Linked DNA regions of Homo sapiens: region 1 is linked to region 2. The links come from fine-mapping of genetic effects on gene expression. A gene starts in region 2. The other region holds a variant in brackets. All regions are shown on one strand. Distances are between the middles of the regions. Region 1 overlaps ARHGEF40 (Rho guanine nucleotide exchange factor 40). Region 2 holds the start of RNASE13 (ribonuclease A family member 13 (inactive)).

Evidence for each region. PIP is the estimated chance that this variant, and not a neighbour inherited with it, causes the effect.
Region 1: its variant is fine-mapped to the expression of RNASE13 in thyroid (GTEx, PIP above 0.99).

The regions. Positions count from the first base shown.
Region 1 is chr14:21,088,933-21,093,378 of GRCh38, reverse strand. It overlaps ARHGEF40 (Rho guanine nucleotide exchange factor 40), which reads right to left. Exons shown (of 24, transcript NM_018071.5): 24 at 3,131-4,365. ZNF219 (zinc finger protein 219) reads left to right here. Exons shown (of 5, transcript NM_016423.3): 3 at 89-1,514; 4 at 1,837-1,968; 5 at 2,239-3,302. The coding sequence ends at 2,843. Among named protein-coding and RNA genes, the nearest start is that of ZNF219, 7.5 kb to the left of the region's middle. RefSeq lists silencers at 155-449, 596-805 and enhancers at 1,410-2,254, 2,255-3,100. The variant C/T (reference allele first, on the strand shown) is at 2,227.
Region 2 is chr14:21,032,942-21,037,176 of GRCh38, reverse strand. RNASE13 (ribonuclease A family member 13 (inactive)) reads left to right here and starts at 2,370. Exons shown (of 2, transcript NM_001012264.4): 1 at 2,370-2,521; 2 at 2,881-4,235. The coding sequence starts at 2,889. The coding sequence ends at 3,359. It also overlaps a transcript of NDRG2 not described here and a transcript of TPPP2 not described here.

The sequences.
Region 1 (4,446 bases), 56 kb before region 2:
TGTTGTCCTTCTGGCCCTCGAGGCGACGCCCTTGCTTCCTTTACAGCTCTACCTTCACCCTTTGCTCTACGCAGATCTTTCTCCACAGGGCTCACGTCCCCGCGCCCCGAGCGGCCACTTAGCGCCGTCGCCGCCGGCTTTCGACGGCGAGCTGGATCTGCAGCGATACTCCAACGGGCCAGCCGTGAGCGCAGGGTCGCTCGGGATGGGAGCGGTGAGCTGGTCTGAGAGTCGTGCAGGCGAACGGCGCTTCCCCTGCCCTGTATGCGGGAAGCGCTTCCGCTTCAACTCTATCCTTGCTTTGCACCTGCGGGCGCACCCAGGAGCCCAGGCCTTCCAGTGCCCTCACTGCGGCCACCGCGCGGCGCAGCGGGCTCTGCTGCGCTCGCACCTGCGCACACACCAGCCCGAGCGCCCACGTAGTCCTGCTGCACGCCTGTTGCTGGAGTTGGAAGAGCGCGCGCTACTACGCGAGGCCCGACTGGGGAGAGCCCGAAGCTCAGGGGGCATGCAGGCCACCCCTGCCACTGAGGGTCTGGCGCGGCCCCAGGCTCCTTCATCGTCCGCCTTCCGTTGCCCCTACTGCAAAGGCAAGTTTCGCACCTCGGCGGAGCGCGAACGCCACCTGCACATCCTGCATAGGCCCTGGAAGTGCGGCCTGTGCAGTTTCGGCTCCAGCCAGGAGGAGGAGCTGCTGCACCACAGCCTGACGGCCCACGGGGCTCCCGAGCGTCCCCTGGCGGCCACCTCCGCTGCGCCTCCGCCTCAGCCTCAGCCTCAGCCTCCACCCCAGCCCGAACCCAGATCAGTCCCCCAGCCGGAGCCGGAGCCGGAGCCCGAACGTGAGGCAACCCCGACCCCAGCTCCTGCCGCTCCCGAGGAGCCCCCAGCGCCTCCGGAGTTCCGCTGCCAAGTGTGCGGCCAGAGCTTTACACAGTCTTGGTTTCTCAAGGGCCACATGCGTAAGCACAAGGCCTCCTTCGATCATGCGTGTCCGGTGTGCGGCCGCTGCTTCAAGGAGCCCTGGTTCCTTAAGAACCACATGAAGGTGCACGCCAGCAAGCTGGGCCCACTGCGTGCCCCGGGGCCTGCCTCCGGGCCTGCCCGCGCCCCCCAGCCTCCTGACCTCGGCCTGCTGGCCTATGAGCCGTTGGGCCCAGCGCTCCTCTTGGCCCCGGCTCCCACCCCGGCCGAGCGCCGTGAGCCCCCGAGCCTCTTGGGCTACCTGAGCCTGCGAGCTGGCGAGGGCCGGCCCAACGGCGAGGGTGCTGAGCCCGGTCCCGGCCGCAGCTTCGGAGGCTTCCGCCCGCTGTCCTCTGCTCTCCCGGCCCGGGCTCGCCGGCACCGTGCGGAGGAGCCTGAGGAAGAAGAGGAGGTGGTGGAGGCCGAGGAGGAAACCTGGGCCCGGGGCAGGTCGCTGGGCTCTCTGGCTTCCCTGCACCCGCGCCCGGGTGAGGGACCGGGGCACTCTGCCTCTGCTGCTGGGGCCCAGGCAAGATCGACCGCCACGCAGGGTATGTAGGTACCCTCCGCTCTCCGGGTACGCCGCGTCCTCCTCTGACTCTTACGCCGCCACTCCCTCGTAGCTTCCTTGTTAAAAGAACTTACGTTTAATTTCTCCTGAGTTTTTTTGTTTTGTTTTGTTTTGTTTTCCTGGAGGCTTTGCCATCATTTGAGAACACTTAACTCTTTAGTCACAACAAATCTAACCCCTCAGACTTTGTTTCCTCCTGGACCCCGAGGGGAAGCAGCCCTATGGGATGGGTGTGGGGTGGGTGCGCGGCACCTGGACAGGGTGTGGGCCCCCCTGACTTCCTCTTAACGTATGTGTTGCAGAAGAGAATGGGCTGTTGGTTGGAGGGACCCGGCCTGAAGGGGGCCGGGGCGCCACCGGCAAGGATTGTCCTTTCTGCGGAAAATCTTTCCGCTCAGCACATCACCTCAAAGTGCATCTGCGAGTGCACACAGGTGAGGGAGGCAGCCTCCGGCGTGGAGAGGGGACTGGGGGCGGGCAGAAAGGTGAGGGCTACCGAAACACTAGGAGGTGAAGTTTGTTCCGAAGCCTTCAGTTTGGCTGGATGAGATCACTTGGGAAACGCTCCTTTATTAAATCAAAGTGGGTGGGAGACGCAGTGCCCTTTCTTGGTTCTGAGAATGAGGTCTGTAAATTGGGCGAAATTCGGGTGGGTGCGTGCAGTCATCGTGACCCCGTGACCCTATCGCACC[C/T]ACTCTCCCCAGGCGAGCGGCCCTACAAGTGTCCGCACTGCGACTACGCGGGCACCCAGTCCGGCTCGCTCAAGTATCACCTACAGCGCCACCACCGGGAGCAGAGGAGCGGGGCCGGCCCCGGGCCACCCCCGGAGCCACCGCCTCCTTCCCAGCGGGGTTCGGCCCCGCAATCTGGAGCCAAGCCGTCTCCGCAGCCTGCGACCTGGGTGGAGGGCGCCTCAAGTCCCCGGCCTCCTTCTAGCGGTGCTGGGCCGGGGTCCCGTCGGAAGCCCGCCAGCCCTGGGAGGACCCTGCGCAACGGGCGAGGCGGTGAGGCCGAACCCCTGGACCTGTCCTTGCGGGCAGGGCCGGGAGGCGAGGCCGGGCCTGGGGGTGCCCTCCACCGCTGCCTCTTCTGCCCGTTCGCCACTGGAGCCCCAGAGCTCATGGCCTTGCACCTTCAAGTGCACCACAGCCGCCGGGCTAGGGGCCGCCGGCCACCCCAGGCTGACGCGTCCCCGCCCTATGCCCGAGTACCATCAGGAGAGACCCCTCCCAGTCCTTCGCAGGAAGGGGAGGAGGGCTCCGGGCTGTCCAGACCCGGAGAGGCAGGGCTGGGGGGGCAAGAACGGTAGTGGGCCCTCAGGGGCGATTAGCTTAGTGAGCTTACCCCGCCGGAGCGGGGGAGCGCTAGAGGTAGTTGGGTAGAGAAGCCAGCAGGGGGCAGCGTGGGACCCATATCCCAGCCCCAGGCGGACCAGAGGTGGAAGGCGCGGCGGGCGTAGGAGGGTGGGCTGGCGGTACCCACCCAGCCCAAGGGAGTCACAGTGCCTTAGAAGTGGCAGAGGTGAGGGTCAAAGAACGGGGTCCCTGGGCTGGCAGAGAAGGTTTGTGTCCCTGTTGAGGAGCCACTCTGCCAGTCTTTGCTGGTCCATAGGCGTGAGAGTTTATTTTTGTACAAGGGGTGAGGGTGGGGGGCACTGTACCCTTCTAGCCCCATCAGGGGCCCTGTAGACGTCGCTATTTTTGGTACGATTCCTGTCATCCCTATTGCAGAGTCGTGTCCCCAATAAACAGGTGTCTTGAGGCACAGGGCCCTGTGTCTGTCTGCCTACCTATGTCCTGCTTCCCTCTTTGGGTCCTTCTGTCAGGAAATAGTCACCTCTTCAGACACTTAGTTATCACCCAAAGAGTTTGATAAGAAATGCAGAATATTGGGTTTTACCCCCAGGTTTCGATGCAGTAGCTCTGATGGGGCCCAAGAATTAGCATTTAACAAACAGCCAAGCAAGTTCTCACGCACTGTGGCCTGAGGACCTCATTTTGAGAACTGCTGGACTGTGCTGGATCCCAGTTTGTCTGTGACCAGTTCAGCCTCAAGGAGTAGGTGCAGTGTGGGAGAAGGAGCTTCAGAGAGTGTGTGGAACCTCTGGGAGCCACTGTGGAGGAGACACATTCTCCCAGGCTCATACACAGTCAGCTAGCTCTGGGCCTGGGAGGGGTAGAGGGGACCTTCCAGTCTTGGTTTTATTTTCTGTGTTCTAGTTAAGGGCTGGTTGAGGGAAAGTGCTCAAGTTATTTATCACCTTAATCCAGAGGACTACTCTAGCTCCTTAGAGGCAAAGTGTGAGTAAATACATTTAATATAACAATAGTATTATAATAACAGTAATTACATATATAAAGTCTACGGTTCCCCTGTCACACCCTCCTATTGTTTGCATAGCTTCATTGCTTGTGACACCTCAGAATGGAGTCACCAGGGACTCCAGTTGACCTGGCAGAGATGATTCTTCTCAGGGAAAGTCAGGGGGTGAGAAAAGAGGAGAACATGGGCTGCCAGGGAGGGCTGGCATGGGAGTGATGTCCTGGATACAGTGGCCCAGGATGGGAAAGCACCGGAAGAGGGATAACTTCCCCACCTCCAGGGTATGAAGGCAAGCAATGTGGCTGCTCTGACTCCTGCAGGAGAAGGCACCAAGCTAGGGAGACTAGAGATAGTGGTGGCAGGGCAATACTCTGGTCGTTAGACCTCCTCTGTGTCCAGGAAGCAGAGGGAAGAAATTCAGCGATCGCCCAGGGCTCCATTATGCCCCACTGCCATCCCAGCCCAAAGTGTGCTGAGAGGAGAAGCTGCACGCAAGTTCTGGATCTTCTCTAGAAGCCAGGAGAGAAGAGGGAGATGAGTTGGGAGAGGGAAGAAGCTGACTCCCAAGTAGCCGGGGACAGGAAGGAAGG
Region 2 (4,235 bases):
ATGTGCTGTTCAGTTTCTGTAATTGTGCGGCAGAAGTGAGTGGTGTTGGGTGGGGGGAGCGAAGAGCGGTGATGGGTGGCTGGGGAATGAAGGAAGAGGAAGAACAAAAGGTATAAAAAGTCCCTTTCTATTCTCAGGGAAGCTGCAGCCTTGAGGGACCAGGGAAGAGGTGGCATGATTCAAGGCAGGGACCACAATGTGGTTGGCTTCCTCAAAGCAAAGGCCTGAGTCAGCCAGGCTCAGGCGACACCCTGCATTGGCACCCGCTCAGTGTTGTCTTGTTGAGCAGCCTGAAGAATACAGATGAGCCACCTGCCCATGTGGGCTCTATCCTCACTTGCTTGACGGTGCCCACTTCCTTGGCGAGGTCTTCCCAGCAGAGGCTTTCTAAGTGGGACCTCTGGGTTGAGTCTTTCTATGAGCTAGCACCATGGAATAGATGGGGGCGAGGAACGGTGCAGCAGCAGGGTTCCAGGTAGAGGAGACAGCAGCAGATAGGGCATAGAGGAGGTGGGGGACAAGGTGGGAAGCAGGCAGGGATGCAGATGCAGTTGTACACATGGGCAGGTGCAAGATCATGGGAAGTCTTATGTCCTGTGAGATGTAGTTTGGACTATACCCTACGACAAGCTTGTCCAACCCATGGCCCGCGGGTCACATGTGGCCCAGGATGGCTTTGAATGCAGCCCAACACAAATTCGTAAACTTTCTTAAAACATTATGAATTTTTTTGCATGTTTTAAGCTCATCAGCTATCGTTAGTGATAGTGTATTTTATGTGCGGCCCAAGACAATTCTTCTTCCAATGTGGCCCAGGGAAGCCAAAAGACTGGGCACCCCTACCCTATGAGAAACAAGCTATTGCAGACTTTTAGACGAAAGAAGGGATCACACTTTTTCTCTTGAAGTTGTATAAGAGATATATTTGAGTTGAGTCTTACTGGAGTTGGAGTGTGTGTGCTGTCCAGGCGAGACGAGAGCATCCACTGAGGAAGAAATAAGAATGGAAGAGATGGGCTTGGGAAAAGTTTAAGATTGTCAGGGCTGTGTGACTGATGGACTCAGGCTCATACTGAGGACTCACCATGTGCCGGGCACTGGTCTAAAAACTCTTGATATACATCTTAATGGATCCTCATACTGCCGTGAGGTAAAAAATACTATCCTCATGAACAGATGAAACAAGGAAGCTTTCAGTGGTTTCGTAAACAGATAGATGGTGTGCAGTTTGTAAGCTGCAGAGGCAGGATTCAATTCCTGGTCTGTTTCACTCAAAAGCCTTGATCTTAACCACCATGCAGGACCGCCTCCCCGTAGCTGGGATTGGGGAGGTGGAGGGGTCTAGGATCACTTTCAGGTTTCTTGCATAGGTAACCAGGGAAACTGAGTTGACAAAACAGGAAGAGAAACAAGTTATGGGGAGGATGGATTCCATTTTGGACTGTGGTTTGTGCTGTCAGAAAGTGCCAGTTTAGGGGGCTCTACATGAGGAACACCAATCTTTCTCTCTGCGGCCTTACTCCCTCCTCCTGAGCTATACTGAGGGTGTTGGAGCACTCAGCTTTCTGTGTTCTGACTCCCCTTTTCTGCTGCCCAGCAAAGGTAAAAAGGCTCTCCTAAGAGGAGGCCCCAAATCTGGAAGACACCTTGCAGACTAACAAGGCTGAGTGACCTGTGGAAGTCAAGGGCAAGAGCTAGCAGTTTCCAGGGAGCTGGCTCTTTGATTCTGATGAAAGGGAAGATGTTGATGAAAAAGATAGGAGCGTGGCCCTTTCCCCAGCATGGCAAACCACTCAGAGATCAACCAACAGTACGAAACGGATCATGCCAGGCTCTGGCATCCACAGCTTTTCATGTTCAGGTTATGCTTTCAAATCCAAACTGCCAAGTTTGAGGCTTCAGAGTCAGCATGCAGAGATTTCCAGTAGTGCTCAAACTCTGACAGGGCCTGAGGTCACAGGTGAAGGCTGTGGGTGTGACAGGAGTAAGGCTGATAGGGACCGTGGGGAGTCCACATGGAGGTCTTTGATTCTCAGCCCAGCACTTTGGTGGGAGGCCCCTGAGTACATGCCCTCCTGGGCTCCCGTGAGTGGGATGACAAAGTGGCGAATGCTCTGTTCTCTGAGGGTCAGGAATAAGAAGCACTTTGTTCCTCAGAAACATAACAGTGCTTTCCTACTCACCTTGCCACGAGAGCACAGGCTATGGAACAGAGAAAACATCAAAGAAAGCCCAGGCACTTAGGAACTTTTGGCAAGGAGATTGGAAGTAAGTGTTCCAATGACACTGTAGAGGAGGAGACCAGATAGTAATGCCTCTTTCCTCCCACCCATCCAACCCTCTTAGCACAGGGGCTCATCAAACTCGGGGACATTCCCTCCTCCCAGACTGATTTTTACCTAGAAACCTTTCTAGCCTCTCCTCATCTCTTGACTGTCTTGGCCTTGGCAAGAAGAATACACGTCCCTACCCAGCTATCTTCAGCTCCTGTCCTTCCTCCCAGCTGCCAGAGAATTGTCAGGTCAGCCTGCTCCTTCTTTCTTCTCTGCATTTTTTACTAGCAGGAGTGCCAGGGGCCCAAGGACTCTTGGGAAGAGTCTCTCACCCAAGGACCAGTTAGAGCTCTTATTCTGCAAATGTAGCTCACGGACTCTGCAGAGGCTGAGATTCTGTGGTGGACCAGGGGAGCAGGGCTGGCTGAAGGTGGCTGGTTGTCTGGGTGGCCTTGGGCAAGCATCTCCTCTTTCTGGGTCATGAGAACTTGGTTATGGGTGAGATGATCTCTAAAGTACTGTTGGGTTGGGAATGCTGGAGGCTCTGGGATGTGGCAGACAGCCACTTCAGGCCCACTGCTGCCCCCAACCACCTTAACTCTACCAGCAGGAGGAATGGCACCAGCTGTGACCCGGCTCCTTTTCCTCCAGCTTGTTCTGGGGCCAACTCTGGTCATGGACATCAAGATGCAGATTGGCAGCAGGAACTTCTATACCTTAAGCATTGACTATCCCAGGGTTAACTACCCAAAGGGTTTCCGGGGCTATTGTAATGGTCTGATGTCCTATATGCGAGGCAAGATGCAAAATTCAGATTGCCCAAAGATCCATTATGTGATACATGCCCCTTGGAAGGCCATCCAGAAGTTCTGCAAGTATAGTGACAGCTTCTGTGAGAATTACAATGAATACTGCACACTCACCCAGGATTCCCTCCCCATCACGGTCTGCTCCCTGAGCCACCAACAGCCACCCACTAGCTGCTACTACAATAGCACCCTAACCAACCAGAAGCTCTACCTACTCTGCTCCCGCAAGTATGAAGCTGATCCAATAGGTATCGCTGGTCTCTATTCGGGAATTTAATTCCTGAGCCACTCCCCAACCTCTACCACCACAGGCCAGCTGTCTCCATTTCCAACACTCTGATCCCTGTAACAAGACTTCCTTCCTGACTTACGAGGCAGGCAGGGTCCCCTCCCAAGAGACCAGGTGGGTGCGAAAATGTCCAGGGCTTTGATCACCATGCAAAGTGGTGCTATCTTCTAGGTTCTTTCCAGCTTGTTTACCCCCTCTTCGCCCCCACCTCCTCATCATCCTTCCTCTCCCAGAGACAGTAAAACCCACCCAAGAAGTTGACTGTGTCCAGTTGGCAGTGACTGTCCACCCACTGGGCCAGATCCTAAGTCCTGGATGGAGGCCCAGGGCCTCAGCTCACACCATGGCAACAGGCACCAGCTCCGAGTCTCACCTCCCCATCCCCACCAGCCTTCTCATGTCAGCCTCCCCCAGTTCCCTTATAATTCCCTCCACTCACCCACCTACTCAGGGGATATGGCTAGCTATAGGAACCTCCCTGAGGCCCTCAGACTCATGTTAGCCTCACTTCCCCACAACCCCCAGTTTCCAGCCTGCTTCTCTCTGTGAAATCATGGTTTCTCCCTTCATATAACTGTCCTCTCCTGCTTCCTCTTACCATGGAGCCTAGGACTGTCTCCCCCACACTCCCAACAACCGTAGTCACCCTGCCTTCCTTTTTCCAACCTCTTTTTCTTCCAGTCTTCTTACCTTGGCTCACTGGCATTTCAAGGTATCTTCTCTCACCCATTCCCCAGAGGTTCCTGCTTCCCTTCTCTTCCAGAAGCTCCTCCCAAATCCCCCAGACTCCAGAGTCTGCCCCTGACCAGGCAGCGAATGAGGCAGGCCCGGCTCTAATCGAACATAAATTTCTAAAACCACATC